Linked DNA regions of Homo sapiens. The protein of the gene in region 1 interacts with the protein of each later gene in a biochemical or structural test. Each region holds a gene or a part of one and is shown in the gene's direction. Other genes may lie near its edges.

Region 1 (2,657 bases):
TGGGAGGGGTATATGGCGTGGGAGGGGTGTATGGCGTGGGAGGGGTGTATGGCGTGGGAGGCGTGGGAGGGGTGTATGGCATGGGAGGGTGTATGGCGTGGGAGGGGTGTATGGCGTGGGAGGAGTGTATGGCGTGGGAGGGGTGTATGGCGTGGGAGGGAGGGTGTATGGCGTGGGAGGGGTGTATGGCGTGGGAGGGTGTATGGCGTGGGAGGGGTATATGGCGTGGGAGGGGTGTATGGCGTGGGAGGGGTGTATGGCGTGGGAGGCGTGGGAGGGGTGTATGGCATGGGAGGGTGTATGGCGTGGGAGGGGTGTATGGCGTGGGAGGAGTGTATGGCGTGGGAGGGGTGTATGGCGTGGGAGGGAGGGTGTATGGCGTGGGAGGGGTGTATGGCGTGGGAGGGGTGTATGGCACGGGAGGGTGTATGGCGTGGGAGGGGTGTATGGCGTGGGAGGGGTGTATGGCGTGGAAGGGGTTGTATGGCATAGGAGACATGTTGGCCCAGAACCCCCCCCGCCACTTAGGCCTTGGCTCTCCTGTCCATCTCCCCAACCAGACTCGGTGAAATACCTGGAGTGCTCAGCTCTCACCCAGAGAGGCCTGAAAACCGTGTTCGACGAGGCCATCCGGGCCGTGCTGTGCCCTCAGCCCACGCGGCAGCAGAAGCGCGCCTGCAGCCTCCTCTAGGGGTAAGAGTCCCCCACTCTAGTGCCCAACTCCCATACACAGCAGGCCCTGGCTGAGCAGTGGCCTTTGGTTCACTGTGAGTGGCATTTAGGCCAGGACAGAAAGAAGGTGGGTATGGAGGTTGCCTCAGTTTCCGCAGCCTACTTGTCATCTGCCTGGGCCAGTCTCACTCTCTGGAGCTCATCTTCCAGAGGCAAGGCCCAAGGTATGAATGAATGCCTGGTAACCCCCCACCCCCGGGCCAGGGAGTGGGTGTCACGGAGCCCCACTCTGCCCATTCCTGCAGGAGGTGATGGAAAAGATGCCTTGGTCCCTGGCCCTAGGAGAGCCCAGTCGAGCCAGGGAGATCCTGCACCCACATATGTGGGTGGAGGTGGGAGAGCCTGAGCTATGATCCCCAGGGGGCAGATGGTGGGGTCAGTGAGTTGGAGGCAGCCCACAAGGCCTCCTGGAGGTGTGGGACCAGAAGGACAGAGAGGACTGGTGAGGTGGGGAGAGCAGCATTGGCAGTCCTGGTGGGAGTCAAACCTTGAGCAAAGACCTGGAGGTGGGAATGAGCTGTGAGCCAGGAAGGCGAGAGCTGTGGATTCTGCATGTCCCCAAATTCTCTTTCCCTGCTTATCTTCCTTCCAGGTTGCACCCCAGCGCTCCCACCTAGATGGGTCTGATCCTCCAGGATCCCCACCCAAAGCCTGATGGCACCCCGGCTGGCCATGCTGTCCCCTCCCTGTGGCGTTTCTTAGCAGATGGCTGCAGAGCTTCGTTGATGGTCTTTTCTGTACTGGAGGCCTCCTGAGGCCAGGAACGTGCAAATTTGCAGGTGCTGCATCCCAAGCCCCTCATGCTCCTGCCTTCCTGAGGGCCAGAGGGGAGCCCCAGGACCCATTAAGCCACCCCCGTGTTCCTGCCGTCAGTGCCAACTGCCGCATGTGGAAGCATCTACCCGTTCACTCCAGTCCCACCCCACGCCTGACTCCCCTCTGGAAACTGCAGGCCAGATGGTTGCTGCCACAACTTGTGTACCTTCAGGGATGGGGCTCTTACTCCCTCCTGAGGCCAGCTGCTCTAATATCGATGGTCCTGCTTGCCAGAGAGTTCCTCTACCCAGCAAAAATGAGTGTCTCAGAAGTGTGCTCCTCTGGCCTCAGTTCTCCTCTTTTGGAACAACATAAAACAAATTTAATTTTCTACGCCTCTGGGGATATCTGCTCAGCCAATGGAAAATCTGGGTTCAACCAGCCCCTGCCATTTCTTAAGACTTTCTGCTGCACTCACAGGATCCTGAGCTGCACTTACCTGTGAGAGTCTTCAAACTTTTAAACCTTGCCAGTCAGGACTTTTGCTATTGCAAATAGAAAACCCAACTCAACCTGCTTAAGCAGAAAATAAATTTATTGATTCAAGTTTGGAGATATCGTGATTTCAGGTGCAGCTTGATCAAGGTATTCAAATGATGTCATCGAGGCTTGTTTAGCTCTGGGCTCTGCCTTCTGCTGGCTGGTTCATTCTCAGGCAGGCGACTTAGGGCTTCATCCTCCCAAGTTCAAGTTCAGGGTTTCATCCTTCCAAGTTCAAGTTCAGGGCCTCATCCTTCCAAGTTCAAGTTCAGCCAAAAAGAGCAAATGTCTATCCCAGGCAAAGTTCTAACTAAGATTTACTGTGATTGGACCAGCTTAGGTCCTGGGCCCCCTTTTAACCAATCATATTTGTCAGAGTGGTGCAGTGCTGTGCTCTGACTGGCCAGGCATGGACCATATGCCATGCTGGAACAGAACTGCGGCAACCCCAGCGAAAGCGTGTGTACTGGGGGGGAGGGTGAGTTCCAAAGTGGGCTGAGAGCCTGGCGGGAATTTGGGAATTTGGGCGAGAAACCCTCAACCTCCACTACTGGAGGTCATGGGAAAGTGTTCATTTCAGCAGTGAAATGAAACAATGCTGGACCCCGAAGGTGATAAGCAAAGGGGAG
Region 2 (3,657 bases), on another chromosome or scaffold:
GAAAATAAAAACAAGTCAAAGATAGGAGAAGCAGGAAAGAGCAATGTCTAGTTGCCCTCTGGACATTTCCACCTAGAATGCATCTCTAAAAACCACTCAGACTGAATCTAATCCTGCACTTTTTTCTCCTGTATTGGTTAATAGTACCACAGTTCACAAGGTTGCCCAGTAATTTATGTTGTTCCTAAGCTCTTTGCTCTCTGTAATCCTTTTACATTTAATTAATCATCAAATTTGATGGATTCCACCTTTTTAATGTTGCTTCAGACTTTCCCACTTATTCTGCTCTAGTTCAGGCCCTTCCTTGTTTTTCAACTGGACAATTGTAGTAGTCTCCTAACTGGTCTTTTGTCTGTATTATAACCTGCCAACAGAGTTTTTCTTTTTGTTTGTTTGTTTTTGTTTGTTTTGTTTTTTTGTTTTTCTGAGACGGAGTCTCGCTCCGTCACCGAGGCTGGAGTGCAGTGGCGCGATCTCGGCTCACCGCAACCTCCACCTCCGGGGGTCACGCCATTCTCCTGCCTCAGCCTCCTGAGTAGCCGGGACTACAGGCGCCCACCACTATGCCCGGGTAATTTTTTTTTTTATTTTTTGGTATTTTTTGCAGAGACGGGGTTTTGAACTCCTAGGCTCAAGCGATCTGCCCGTCTTAGCCTCCCGAAATGCTGGGACTACAGACGTGGGCCACCATGCCCAGCCTTATCTTTTATTTTTATTTTTTAATATAGATAGGGTCACACTTTGTTGACCAGGGTGGTTTCAAACTCCAGGCCTCAAGGAATCCCCCTTGGCCTCCCCAAAGTGCTGGGATTACAGGTGTGAGCCACTGCACCCAGCCTCCTCTCTTTCAAAAAACATTTATTGAGCTATAATATACATACAGTAGCCGGGCGCAGTGGCTCACGCCTGTAATCCCAGCACTTTGGGAAGTTGAGGCAGGTGGATCACGAGGTCAGGAGTTCGAGAGCAGCCTGGCCAATATAGTGAAACCCCATCTCTACTAAATATACAAAAAAATTAGCCAGGCGTGGTGGTGCATGCCTGTAATCCCAGCTACTCGAGAGGCTGAGGCAAGAGAATTGCTTGAACCTGGGAGGTGGAGGTTGCAGTGAGCCGAGACGCGCCATTACACTCCGGCCTGGGTGACAGAGCGAGACTACGTCTCAAAAAAAAAAAAAAAAAAAAAAAAAATATATATATATATATATATATGATTTTATATATATATGATTTTATATATATATGATTGTGTATATATATATGATTTTGTATATATATATGATTTTGTATATATATATGATTTTGTATATATATGATTTTGTATATATATATGATTTTGTATATATATACACACGCACACATACACACATAAAGTGCTTAAAGTACCCTAATCGTAAGTTTTCTACTTGATGAATTTTAACATATATATGTTAAAATATATATTAAATATGTGTTAAATATATATTAAAATGTATATGTTAAAATATATATATTTATCTGTGTGACTATCCCCCAGATTAAGATATAGAACATTCCCACAACCCTAGAAAGTTCTTTCATGCTCCTTCCCCATCAGTACCCACCCCCAAGTTATATTCTGGCTTCTATTACCATAGATTAATTTTGTTTATTACCATAGATTAGTTTTGAAGTTCTTATAAATGGACTCATGCAGTAGGTACTCTTTTGTGTCATAATGATGAATTATGATTATGTTTTGCTCATTATATCTATGAGATCCATCCATATTGTCTGTGGCAATAGTTTTTTTTTTTTTTCTTGCTGTGTAGCGTATGAATATACCACAATTTATGTATCTGTTCACCTGATGATGGACATTTGAGTTGTTTCCAGTTTGGGGCTATTATAAATAACACTACTATGAATACTCTTGTGCATATCTTTGGCAGAGATATACACTCATTTTTAATACCCAAGAGTGGAATTGATGAGTCAGAGGGTATAAGTGTCCTCTCCTAGCACTTCCCTACACATGCTGTGTTCCTACTTTAAGTATCATAAAAACAAGTTTCCATTGACTTTCTTGCTTTATTCAGTCCTACCCGCTCTGCTACAGAAACGAAGTTTGAGAGCTAGGAAATTGACACATTCAAGGTTATAGACTGGGACTTCCCTGATTTCCCATCATTTTCCCCAAATAATTGCTAGTGACTCAGTAACAACATCCACTCTTTAAGTAACTTAGGTTAATTGTTAATGAGTACAGCTAGATTCAAAACAGTTCAGATTTTTGAAGCACTTAACCTTTTTCTTGCCTATTTTACCTTGCATCGTTTCAAACACTACAAAATACATACTCATTGCATTTACAATTAATTGTAAGATTCTGAAAGTGATTTTTCAGTGCCTGAATACTTCAAAAAATCTTCCCAAAGCAGCTTTGCTTTGCTGGTTTGTTTTTATTCTTTCGCTTGCTCCTTAATTTTTTCATTTTAACTATATTTTGCTATTGAGTTGTGATAATGAAAATAATTGTTTAAATTCTATGTTCTTTTTCCTCACCAATTTTTATTTCAGATGATACCATCTTCCAAAATCCTATGGTACAAGAAGCTATACGAATGGGGTTCAGTTTCAAGGACATTAAGAAAATAATGGAGGAAAAAATTCAGATATCTGGGAGCAACTATAAATCACTTGAGGTTCTGGTTGCAGATCTAGTGAATGCTCAGAAAGACAGTATGCAAGATGAGTCAAGTCAGACTTCATTACAGAAAGGTATGCATTGCTGTTTTTAAAAAGCAAGAAAGGGCCAGATGTGGTGGCTCATACCTGTAATCCCAGCACTTTGGGAGGCTGGGACAGGTGGATATGGACATTTTTTAAACGTAACCTTAATGCTGTGTGTTAGTCTGCTCAAGCTGCTATAATAAAATTCCATAGACTAGGTGTCTTAAACAACAGACTTATTTCTGACAGTTTTGGAGGCTCCAAAATCAAGGTGCTGGCTGATTTGGTTATTGATGAGGGCCCTCTTCCTACCTTGCAGATGGCTGCCTTCTCACTGTGTCCTCACATGGCATGGGTTGGGATTGGATGGGACAAGATGGAGCAAGTACTCTGGTCTCTTTTCCTCTACTTTTAGGAACACTAATCCCATCATGGGGGGGTCTCATCTTCATGACCTCATCTAAACCTAATTACTTCCCAAAGGCCTCATTTCCAAATATCATTACATTAATCATGGAAAAAAGATTAAAAATATGAGTTCTACCAGCCTGGACAACATAATGAAACTGTCTCTACAAAAAATACAAAAATTAGCCGGGCATGGTGGTGTGTGCCTGTAGTCCCAGCTCCTTGGGAGGCTGAGCGGGGAAGATCACCTGAGCCAGGGAGGTCAAGGCTGCAGTGAGCCATGATCATGCCACTACACTTCGGCCTGGGCAACTGAGCAAGATCTTGTCTCAAAATATATGTATCTCTCCTTTAAGGATGATGGACACTGTAGTGCTTGCCAACAACATCGAAGGTTAAAGAAGAAGTTTCAAACTGAGTACACTTTTGGGTACTTTACCTGTAATAGTTCTCTAAGCTCTTGACCATCCTCCCTCCAAAAAGATGAGAATTCTCCTACTGCTAAAAAAACTTAAACGTTTACTTATTTTTGACGCATTTAAGATCCTTTTGATCTTT
Region 3 (3,657 bases), on another chromosome or scaffold:
TCTGGTCCCTATCTCCTTACTCCTGGGTGAAGCCAGGGAAGGCATTTTCCCATCCACCTGTACCCTCCCTCTTATCCTCACTTCCCTCCCCTGCCCATTTGGCCTTGTGACCCTTTAGTCCTCTTGGTGGCTGTGGAGATGCCAGGGTGACTTTAGGTCTTTAGAGTGGGGTTTACAGGAGAGGGGGCTTCTGTACTTACAAGAAGCCCTAGCATGTCAAGCTCCACTCACATTTGTCCTGGCTTCTGTTTGTGGGAAGGGTGATGAAGGGAACCACCCGAGCCCTGAACCAGTGCCCTCTACTAAACACCCAAACAAGACCCAGGATCCCCCAGAAAGTCCTAAACAGAGTGTCCCAAAAAGCTGCTGGGGCAGGTGAGGGACATGTGTCCATCTGCACATACACTTGGCTGGCTGCCCTTGTTAGACCCCTGCCAGTCAGGGCAAGGTGGCCTCGGAGGCCAGGAGGTTGTTTGCTTCTGCGATCAACATACAGAGTTAACAACTGCAGCAGGATGTACCCCAGCCACCACTTCCGGTTCCTCTGTAACAGGTTTCCTGTCCCTGCCCAGCTTACCTCTACTCCCCACTCCCCAACGCCTACCCCTACCCCAAATCCCCTTCCTCTCCCACAAGGGAAAGATCCCCAGGGTTGGGGATTGGGGCTTGGAATAAGGACCTGAATGGGATTCAGGAGATCAGAATCGGGTTCTGGCTGCCCCCAGTTTGCTGTGTGACTTAGAGCCAGTCACTTCCCCCTTTGGGCTTTTTTTTGGTCATCTGCAAAATGAGTGATTGGATGAGAGGGCCTTTGCACTCCCTTGACACTTTCTGTGATTTATTGCCTCTTTCTGGACCCCAGATCTCAGGTCCCCTTCACCTTGCCCTTAAGACAGGAAGGAGTGGGACTGGAGGTTGTGGACGGGGAGAGAAAACCTGAGTTGGGGTTGGGGCTCCAGGATCCTCTCCCAGGTCTTTTCCCTGGCTCCATAACATTCGGTCCTCTGGCCCCCTCAACGCTCTGTCCCCTGTTTCCCTCTGCCCAGGCTCTGGGAGCCAGATAGAGCACTCCCTGGTGTTGGTGCTGGCAACACCACCTGCTGCAGCTACCAGGCCTTCCTTCTCCTGCTCCAGGTGGAATACCTGCTGAAAAAGGTACTCAGCAGCATGAGCTTGGAGGTGAGCTTGGGTGAGCTGGAGGAGCTTCTGGCCCAGGAGGCCCAGGTGGCCCAGACCACCGGGGGGCTCAGCGTCTGGCAGTTCCTGGAGCTCTTCAATTCGGGCCGCTGCCTGCGGGGCGTGGGCCGGGACACCCTCAGCATGGCCATCCACGAGGTCTACCAGGAGCTCATCCAAGATGTCCTGAAGCAGGTCAGGCAAGCTGGGAACTAGGGGAAGCACACAAGGTGCAGGGCGAAGGGGGGCCTGGGAAGCCTCTGACGTAACTCCGGCTGGCAGGGCTACCTGTGGAAGCGAGGGCACCTGAGAAGGAACTGGGCCGAACGCTGGTTCCAGCTGCAGCCCAGCTGCCTCTGCTACTTTGGGAGTGAAGAGTGCAAAGAGAAAAGGGGCATTATCCCGCTGGATGCACACTGCTGCGTGGAGGTGAGGGGCAGGATGGGGGTGGAGGACATCTCAGGGCCCAGAGTGTCCTCAGGGGCATGAGAAGACAAGGGGGTCAGGAGAGGGGCAAATGGAGAAAAGCCACAGTGACACAAATTCCTGCTTAGATTAGTGTGACCCAAATATATCCGGATGCCTCAAGGCCATTCTCATCCACGTCAGCACTTAAAACTAAAACTGCAACTCAAGCACCAAAGTAATTGGTGAATAATATGGAATTTGCTCAAGATTTCAGAGGAAGTGGCTTATATCTATACTACACAGCAAATCTTTCTAAAAATCCCTTTTAAAGGTTTTTCTTCTTCACCCATATTCCATTCCCTTTAGCAACTCTGTACTTCCCTATTCTCCTTCCATACCCCTCTCCTCTGTCTTCCCCTTCTGTTTCCTCCCTTGTGTTCATCACTATTTTAGAGGCTTAAAACACAAGCGTCTTTACTATTTTAAATAATATGTATATATGTGTGTGTAACATGAAACTTCCCATTTTAACTATTTTAAGCGTACAATTCAGTGGCATTAAATACATTCATGAAATTAAAAAATTCTTTTGATATATAACAGATGTACATATTTTCAGGGTACATGTGATAATTTAATACATTCATATATTTTATAAAAATCAAATCATGTCATTAGGTATCCTTTACCTCAAATATTTCTTTATGCTAGAAACATTCAAATTATTCTCTTCTATTTTGAAATATACAATAGATTATTGTAAACTGTAGCCACCCTACTGATCTATTGAATCCTAGGTCTTATTTTTCCTGTCAAACTGTATGTTTATACCCATTCATCAACCTCTCTTTGTCCTCCCCCCACACTTCCTGGCCTCTGGTACCACTAATATACTCTCTATCTTCATGTGATCCACTTTTTTAGCTCCCACATGTAAGTGAGAACATGCGATAGTTGTTTTTCTGTGTTTGGCTTATTCACTTAACAAAATGACCTATGGTGCCATCTATGTTGTTGCAAATGACAAGATTTCATTCTTTTTATGGCTGAATAATATTATATATATCACATTTTCTTAATCTATTTATCCACTTCTGGGCACTTAGGTTGATTTCATATTTTGGCCATTATGAATATCTCTGCAGTAAACATGGGAAGGCAGATATCTCTTCAATATATTGGTTTACTTTCTTTTAGATATATACCCAGCAGTGGAACTTCTAGATCATATGATAGTTCTATTTTTAGTTTTTTGAGGAACCTTCATACAGTTTTCCATAGTAGCTGTACTAATTTATATTCCCACTAACAGTTTATCAGGGTTCCCCTTTCTCCACGTCTTCTCCAGCATCTTTTTACAGAAAAGATATTCTTGGCCAGGCGCAGTGGCTCATGCCTGTAATCCCAGCACTTTGGGAGGCCGAGGCTGGTGGATCACCTGAGGTTGGGAGTTTGAGACCAGCCTGGCCAACATGGTGAGACCCCATCTCTACTAAAAATACAAAAATCAGCCGGGCATGGTGGTGGGCGCCTGTAATCCCAGCTACTCAGGAGGCTGAGGCAGGAGAATCGCTTGAACCTGGAGATGGAGGTTGCAGTGAGTCAAGATTGCACCATTGCACTTCAGCCTGGGTGACAGGAGTGAAACTCTATCTCAAAAAAAAAAAAAAAAAAAAGATGTTCTCTATTTTTTTTGTAAAAAGCCATTTTAACTGGGATGAAATGATATCTCATTTAATTTTGATTTGCTTTTCTCTGATGATTAGTGACATTGAGCATTTTTTCATATCTCTGTTGACCATTTGTATGTCTTCTTTTGAGAAATATCTATTCAGATCTTTTGCCCATTTTTAAACTGGATTATTTGGTTTTTTGTTACAGAGTTGTTTGAGCTCCTTATATATTCTGGTTATTAATCCCTCGTCAGATTGATACTTTGCAAATATTTTCTCCTATTCTGTGGGTTGTCTCTTCACTTTGTTGATTGTTTCCATGGCTGTCCTGAAGCTTTTTAGCTTGACATAATCCCATTTTTCTATTTTTGGTTTGGTTGCCTATGCTTTTGAGGTCTTC

What was found.
Region 2: the proteins of RAC2 (region 1) and XIAP form a complex in vitro, tested with the Homo sapiens proteins (one study listed by IntAct).
Region 3: the proteins of RAC2 (region 1) and DEF6 form a complex in vitro, tested with the Homo sapiens proteins (one study listed by BioGRID).

What each region holds. Positions count from the first base shown.
Region 1 is NC_000022.11:37,224,707-37,227,363, reverse strand, and holds the end of RAC2 (ras-related C3 botulinum toxin substrate 2), read left to right. Parts: intron 1-560; coding exon 561-691; 3' UTR 692-693; intron 694-1,324; 3' UTR 1,325-2,094; downstream 2,095-2,657. UniProt on the Homo sapiens protein: Plasma membrane-associated small GTPase which cycles between an active GTP-bound and inactive GDP-bound state.
Region 2 is NC_000023.11:123,897,955-123,901,611, forward strand, and holds part of XIAP (E3 ubiquitin-protein ligase XIAP), read left to right. Parts: intron 1-2,538; coding exon 2,539-2,739; intron 2,740-3,657.
Region 3 is NC_000006.12:35,311,168-35,314,824, forward strand, and holds part of DEF6 (differentially expressed in FDCP 6 homolog), read left to right. Parts: intron 1-1,046; coding exon of another isoform or gene 1,047-1,134; coding exon 1,135-1,371; intron 1,372-1,458; coding exon 1,459-1,605; intron 1,606-3,657.